Linked DNA regions of Homo sapiens. The protein of the gene in region 1 purifies or fractionates together with the protein of each later gene. This does not show direct contact. Each region holds a gene or a part of one and is shown in the gene's direction. Other genes may lie near its edges.

Region 1 (3,691 bases):
CTGGCTGCTCCAAAGCATCTTTTGTTGTGGAATGGTTATTCCAGTCATCTCTTTATGAATCAAATGTGAGGGGCTGCTTTGTGGACGGAGTCCTTTGCAAGAGCACATCAACGGGAAAGAGAAAGAGACATTCACTTGGAGGGCTCTTGCTGAAAATGGGTTTAACTCTCCTTTTGCCAGTCACCACCAGCCTGACCTCATACACTTTTAGTACAATGGAGTGGCTGAGCCTTTGAGCACACCACCATTACATCATCGTGGCAAATTAAAGAAGGAGGTGGGAAAAGAGGACTTATTGTTGTCATGGCCCATGAGATGATTGGAACTCAAATTGTTACTGAGAGGTTGGTGGCTCTGCTGGAAAGTGGAACGGAAAAAGTGCTGCTAATTGATAGCCGGCCATTTGTGGAATACAATACATCCCACATTTTGGAAGCCATTAATATCAACTGCTCCAAGCTTATGAAGCGAAGGTTGCAACAGGACAAAGTGTTAATTACAGAGCTCATCCAGCATTCAGCGAAACATAAGGTAAACGCTTTCCTTTTTGCCTTTTCAAAATAAATGGACACACTGAATGAGGAATAATTTTAATTGAAGCCTCCTCTTTAAGTAGAGAAAGTAATTTGAGGAAGTTTTGGTTGCTTTTTAAATTTTGGTGCCTTGTGGTACCTCAAAATAATTTATTGTCCATATTGCCACATTTAATAATATTTCTAAACTATGAAGGATTAACTTGCTTTAGTTTGGACAAGTGCTATATTTTCTTGTGGCTTGCTAAAATGATTTTATTAAACACTATTCTATATTATCTGCAAATTTACTGAAAGGAAAGTCATTCTTTTCAAGTTCTTTGGAAAGAAAGTAGGAACTAATTATTAGGGGTGCTTTTTATGTGTCATAACACATGTGGTAACATTGGTCAAGACTTAATGATATCTTCAAGGGAAGTTATTCCTGGGATACTAAAATGTTGTCTGTGTGGTGAGGAAGTTGGTTTTTTTCTTCACAAATACAAATGAGCTCATGTTTTAATTTAAATAAACAACTGATTTCTTTGTTAAGGTGTAAAAGTCATTTTAAAAAAAGTTTGTTTAGGTCCAGGGTTATGTTTATTTTGCATATTGTTTGGTTTATTATGAACTTTACCATTTTATAGTATAAAGGATTTAAAACCAGGGAATCGTGAGATCACCTACACAGAAATAGCATCATTTTGGTTTTTAAGAGTTTTGTATGTGTCTGTCTCGTAAATTGACTACATCTCATTTTTATTCAAATTATTAATTGAAAACAGGAAGCAATTATTCGCCCCAGCACTGGTAAATGTGAGATCTTAAGCAGTAGTTTGAGATTACTTTTCTCACCTTCTTCCTAACAAGCCTCATGTTTGCATTTCAGGTTGACATTGATTGCAGTCAGAAGGTTGTAGTTTACGATCAAAGCTCCCAAGATGTTGCCTCTCTCTCTTCAGACTGTTTTCTCACTGTACTTCTGGGTAAACTGGAGAAGAGCTTCAACTCTGTTCACCTGCTTGCAGGTAAGGCTCGTGATGGAATTAAAAGGACTCAGAATCTTGCTGAGCTGTATGAGTAAGCATATTTCACTGTGAACTCAGTACAATAGATCATCCCAACTTTGCTGTGTAAAATGATTTATTTATAGCTTTTGATTGATGTCACCGTTCTATTTAACTTGAATACTATATCATTCTTCCACATAGGTCAGTGTATTTTTGACTTGGCTCAAGTGCCTCTTTGCTTGCTATTAACTGGTAGTGCCACATAGATTTGCACACCCATATGGATAGCTCAAAGCCAGCTGCTTCTGTCTGCCTTTTTCCATTCACCTGTGATGTAAGAACACCAAATGATGAACATCTCAGCTCCTGCTAGTTCCCACCCCTGTGGCAAGAACCAGACCAATATTACAGTGTCAAACTCTTACTTAACATTTATAGTTGGAGCGGACTCCAGAGATAAGCCTTATGGTCACCTTTCTGGGCATTATAAACAATGAAATAGGGGGAGAATGTGTGCAGAATGTTTCTTCTGGTAATTAGGGGAATTGTTTTAAAAGTTACTTGTATATTTTTATTTGTTTTATAATTAAAAAAAAGTCTCAACGTAGAAATGCTAAGCAACCAGATGATCTTATAAAGTGTGTGGGAAGGACCAAATATTCTATATCTCTCCTGGAGGACGGCATTGTAGGAGTTAATCCCATCAAATTCCAAAGAAGGCTATTCATCCTTTGCTTCTCGTTTTGCAAATGAAAATCCTTTCCCTTGCCCTGTGGGCTCATAGAGCTGGGAATATAGTTTGACAACACACAGTAACCTTAACATAAAGCTGCTGTGTTGGGCGGATTCAGCTTCAGTGATAGGCAAGAGTGCTTTTAAACATTTGGTCTAAGAAAAACAAAACATTAAGATTAATTAGTTGTTGGTGTGTTAATAATTTTAAACTCTGGGCAGGTTTAGATAAGATTTCCATGTCTCCAGTTCTCTCTCACAAGCTTTTCCTCAGTTCTCTAAGAACAAGGATAGTTCATCTTTTTCAGATTGTCTATCTGTACACCTTTCATTTATGCTGTGATTCCGTCTGATCTTTCAATTAGTGTTCTTAAGTGAAGCCAGCTTGTCTTAGAATGTAGTTTTCAGAAGTCTGTAACTGAGAATTATAATATTAGATTCTGTCTCTGTTGATAGACACATTCTTTTACTGGGAGTATGAGTGTGTTAAATGTAACAGCTATTATTAGCATTTCACTAAACTAATTGGGTGAGTTTAGGAACTCATTTCATGTTTCAGGTGGCCACTGTGTGAGGGACTTTACCTTGGAATCCTGTTAATGGGATCAGGGTTTTTCTTTTCTTTTTTTTTTTTTGAGACAGAATTTTGCCCTGTCGCCCAGGCTAGAGTGCGGTGGTGTGACCTTGGCTTGCTGCAACCTCTGCTTCCCAGGTTCAAGCGATTCTCCTGCCTCAGCCTCCCAAGTAGCTGGGATTCTGAGCACCTGCCACCACGCCTGGCTAATTTTTGTATTTTAGTAGAGACCGGGTTTCACCATGTTGGCCAGTCTGGTCTCGAACTTTGACCTCAGGTGATCTGCCTGCCTCGGCCTCCCAAAGTGCTGGGATTACAGGCATGAGCCACCACACCCAGCCAGAGTCTTTCTTAAAGAAGCAATATGCCAAGATGTGCTTCGTGACAGAGTGGTTATCCCACCATGTTCTTGTTTGAGTTACTTTTACCCTATGGGGAGACCTTACTCAACATCTCGGTCAAGTAGACAGCCCCCCAGAGGAGTGAGCTCACATTGAGTTTCTAGCACAGGTGCTTTAGCTACTTGTACCCTTTACTCCTTTACCAAAGAGCATTCCTTTGTTACCTGGGAAGGTTCTTAATCTATCCTGTGTAGCCTTGGGAGGGGCATTCACTGGGCAATAAGGAAGAAACAGGACTGCCTGATTAGCTATGTCAACTCTAGGGACACGTGGTGTGACACACTGAGTCAGAACACCCTGACATCCCTGTTTCAAACAGGAAGTGTTTCTTAGGCCTAACGGCAAGTCCATGGAGGCAGCACCAGGAGCCACATTAAATGTATTAGTAGCACCATATCTTCATCCATACCTCCAGAATCCTGTGTTTCTATTAGCTTAGGAGGTGACTTCAGAGTCTGAATT
Region 2 (3,691 bases), on another chromosome or scaffold:
GGGGCTATTCTTTAAGGCAGCGGTTCCCAACCTTTTTGGAACCAGGGACCTGTTTCATGGAAGACAATTTTTCCATGGATGGAGAGGAGGAAGGTTTTGGGATAAAAGTGTTCCATCTCAGATCATCAGGCATTTGTTAGATTCTCATAAGGAGAGTGCACCCTAGATCCTTCGCATGCGCAGTTTGCAATAGGGTTCACGCTCCTATGAGAATCTAATGCCTCTGCTGATCTGACAGAAGGCAGAGCTCAGGTAATGTTCACCTTGCCCTCCTGCCTGCCGGTCACTTCCTGTTGTTTGGTCCAGTTTCTAACAGACTGTTACATATAGGACTCTCCCTGTTAGCCTAGGAGCTCCTTAGAAGCAAAGGCTGGGAGTTCTCCCTTCTTGTCCTGCCCTGAAGCACTGAATTCCAGAGGGGAATAGAATTTCACAAACAACTCCAGTACTGCCTCCCCAACTCCCCTATCCCCAACACCGTGACGATAACCTTAGCAGTAATTTTAAGGCTGAGGTAAAAATGTGCTGTGGAAAGTGGGGCATTCAGACATGATAGGGCCCCTATTCCCACCAGACCCAGGGGCAGAAAACTGGGTGATTGTGTGTTTAGGTGTGATTGTGTGTGTATTTGGAGGTGGGAGGGGGCACTGTCTATTGTGGGACTATCAGTTGCAGGGCTGAGTTGGAACAGTGTGATGTCAAAATATGTTACAGAAAAATCTCTAACCTGAGCAAATGGCAATTCAGATCTCTGCAGAGAGAGGTTCAGATGAACTTTCCTTTTCACCTGCTCTTTTCTTTTCTGGATAACCAGCTGTTATCTTGCTCCAATTTTAATATTCAGTTATGCAGAGTGTTCTTTATGGAAGCTTGGATCATCACACTGATGATTCAAGTGTCAAGCCAAGCAAGGCAGCAGGCACAAAATTAATGTTTGCAAGACAGAACCAGGGGCTCCAAGGCTAGAGTGTAGCTGCCAGCCTCTTTCCATGCTCAGTGCTGGTCCACAGTCTTCCACTTTAGGTGAATGTGTGAGTCTTATTATTATGGCAAGCAATCACAGGCCTGGTGTACTGTCCAGCTGTTCTTGGACCAAGGGTGCTTGCTTCTCTCTCCCTCTCTTACTCTTCCTTCCCTCCCCTTCCCCTTCCCCTCTCCCCTCTCCTCCCAGATTCCCCCATCTGCTGGTGCCACTCTACAGAGAGGGGACAAATTGGTGAGGGACTTCCCAGGGAGGGGTCATTGGGTTTTAGCAGGCTGGTCACTGAGCTAGCGGATGACCAGAGGTGCAGAGGTATATTGTGGTGGGTAGTGGCTAGGTCTTGTTTTTATTCCATCTCTGTTGGTATTTGGGCATTTGGAGGATTGAGAGCCTTGACCAGAAGGGTGTGGCTTGCACCAGGTTTATTTATTTAAAAAGCCATTGGGAACCTATCTCACACACCAGGAATATGAATCATGTAGGGCCTTCAAGGAGTTCCCTTCCTAGATAGGGAGCTAGATGGGGACAAAAATAATAAGAGGAGGAGAGTAGAGGAGAAACAGTCCACCTCATGGTTCTCAAGTGGAATTTGGGGTTCCATTGATGACCGCATTAAAGTATCTTCCCAGCAGGACAGCCAATAGAGGGTCTGGCTTAGACCCACCCTCATATCACCTCTCTGAGGGAGAGATATTGATAGGCCTCTTGAATGGCGAATATTGAAGCCCAGAGAGTACCTTTCTTGAGGCTCCCATTTCATTGTCTTAGCAGGTTCTAGATTGCAGACCTACTTTGTGGATGTGTGAGGCTCCTATTCTGAGATTCTGAAGCCTGAGCATGGTTCTGCAGGCAATTTAGGAAGCTTTGGATGGGAGGTGAAACTTCAGGTCCACTTTTCAGTCTCAGACAAAATGTCAGTGAGAGCCCAGACTAATATGAAACTGAAGCTTGAATCCAACAGAGCCCTGTGAGGACTCAATGGACTGTTTTGCCAGATGGTTTTCAAAAATTCTGTGATGTTGGAGCCAACATCCCTTTTGCCTTTCTTGTCTCTCCCTATCCTCATCCCCTTTGATAATTGATAATACCTCCCACAGCCAATAGCACCACTAGGCCTTTCACACAACTGCAGGTCCCCCTGCCCAGTGGTCCCCTGAGCTTAGGATGGTCTGAAGGGAGTGGACCCAGCAAGAAGGTAGGGGATGAAGGCTTCTTGTTGCTCAGTGTAGAGTTTTGCTTCCTTGGGGCCCAGAGAGAGCTGGCCCAGCAAGCCAAGCATATCGAGTGGATTAAGATTTGCCCCACATTTTCCATCATTTTCTTTCTTGTTCCACTCAAGCCTGACGTCCGGTGAAAGCAAACCCAGCCTGGATGCTTGCTCACTAGTATCTGTCTCTCTGTCTTTGTCTCTCCTATCTCCTCCAGACCCCACTGTGATGCTTCCTGACTGATAATGTTATAACAGTGCCTGGAAGCCTGAGGCTGCATTTCCAGCTGGACGTACCTCAGTTGTCCCCATCATCATGGAGACCCAAAAGGATGAAGCTGCTCAGGCCAAGGGAGCTGCAGCCTCTGGGAGTACCCGTGAACAAACAGCAGAAAAAGGAGCCAAGAACAAGGCAGCTGAGGCGACAGAAGGACCAACCTCAGAGCCATCCTCATCCGGCCCAGGTAGGCTGAAGAAAACTGCCATGAAACTCTTTGGTGGCAAGAAGGGTATCTGTACTCTGCCTAGTTTCTTTGGAGGGGGACGGAGCAAAGGTTCTGGGAAAGGCAGCTCCAAGAAAGGTCTCAGCAAGAGCAAGACCCACGATGGCCTGAGTGAAGCAGCCCATGGCCCTGAAGATGTTGTCAGTGAAGGAACTGGCTTCTCCCTGCCTTTGCCTGAGTTACCCTGCCAATTTCCCAGCTCTCAGAGTGCCCATGGGGCTTTGGAGACAGGCTCCAGATGTAAGACATCTGTGGCTGGAGCCACAGAGAAAGCTGTGGCTGAGAAGTTTCCCTCTATGCCCAAGCCAAAGAAAGGCCTAAAAGGCTTTTTTAGCAGTATCCGCCGTCACCGGAAGAGCAAGGTCACTGGGGCTGAGCAAAGTGAGCCAGGGGCCAAGGGGCCTGAGAGGGTCAGAGCCAGGCCTCATGAGCACGTGAGCTCAGCCCCTCAGGTGCCCTGCTTTGAGGAGACCTTCCAAGCCCCTAGAAAGGAAAATGCTAACCCCCAAGATGCCCCTGGGCCAAAAGTTTCTCCAACACCAGAACCTTCTCCACCAGCTACTGAGAAAATGGCCTGTAAAGATCCAGAAAAACCCATGGAGGCCTGTGCCTCAGCACATGTGCAACCCAAGCCTGCCCCTGAAGCCAGTAGCCTAGAGGAGCCCCATAGCCCAGAAACAGGGGAGAAGGTAGTAGCAGGAGAGGTAAACCCACCCAATGGCCCTGTGGGGGACCCACTGAGCCTCTTGTTTGGGGATGTGACATCCCTGAAAAGCTTTGATTCATTGACAGGTTGTGGTGACATAATAGCAGAACAGGACATGGACAGTATGACAGACAGCATGGCCTCTGGGGGCCAGAGAGCAAACCGAGATGGGACCAAGCGAAGTTCCTGCCTGGTGACCTACCAAGGAGGTGGGGAGGAGATGGCCTTGCCAGATGATGATGACGAGGAGGAAGAAGAGGAAGAAGAGGTGGAATTAGAGGAGGAAGAAGAGG

What was found.
Region 2: the proteins of DUSP16 (region 1) and AMER1 purify together in Homo sapiens (affinity purification with mass spectrometry; one large-scale study listed by BioGRID and IntAct). This does not show direct contact.

What each region holds. Positions count from the first base shown.
Region 1 is NC_000012.12:12,517,711-12,521,401, reverse strand, and holds part of DUSP16 (dual specificity protein phosphatase 16), read left to right. Parts: 5' UTR 1-303; coding exon 304-531; intron 532-1,401; coding exon 1,402-1,540; intron 1,541-3,691. UniProt on the Homo sapiens protein: Dual specificity protein phosphatase involved in the inactivation of MAP kinases. Dephosphorylates MAPK10 bound to ARRB2.
Region 2 is NC_000023.11:64,192,101-64,195,791, reverse strand, and holds part of AMER1 (APC membrane recruitment protein 1), read left to right. Parts: intron 1-2,407; 5' UTR 2,408-2,505; coding exon 2,506-3,691. UniProt on the Homo sapiens protein: Regulator of the canonical Wnt signaling pathway.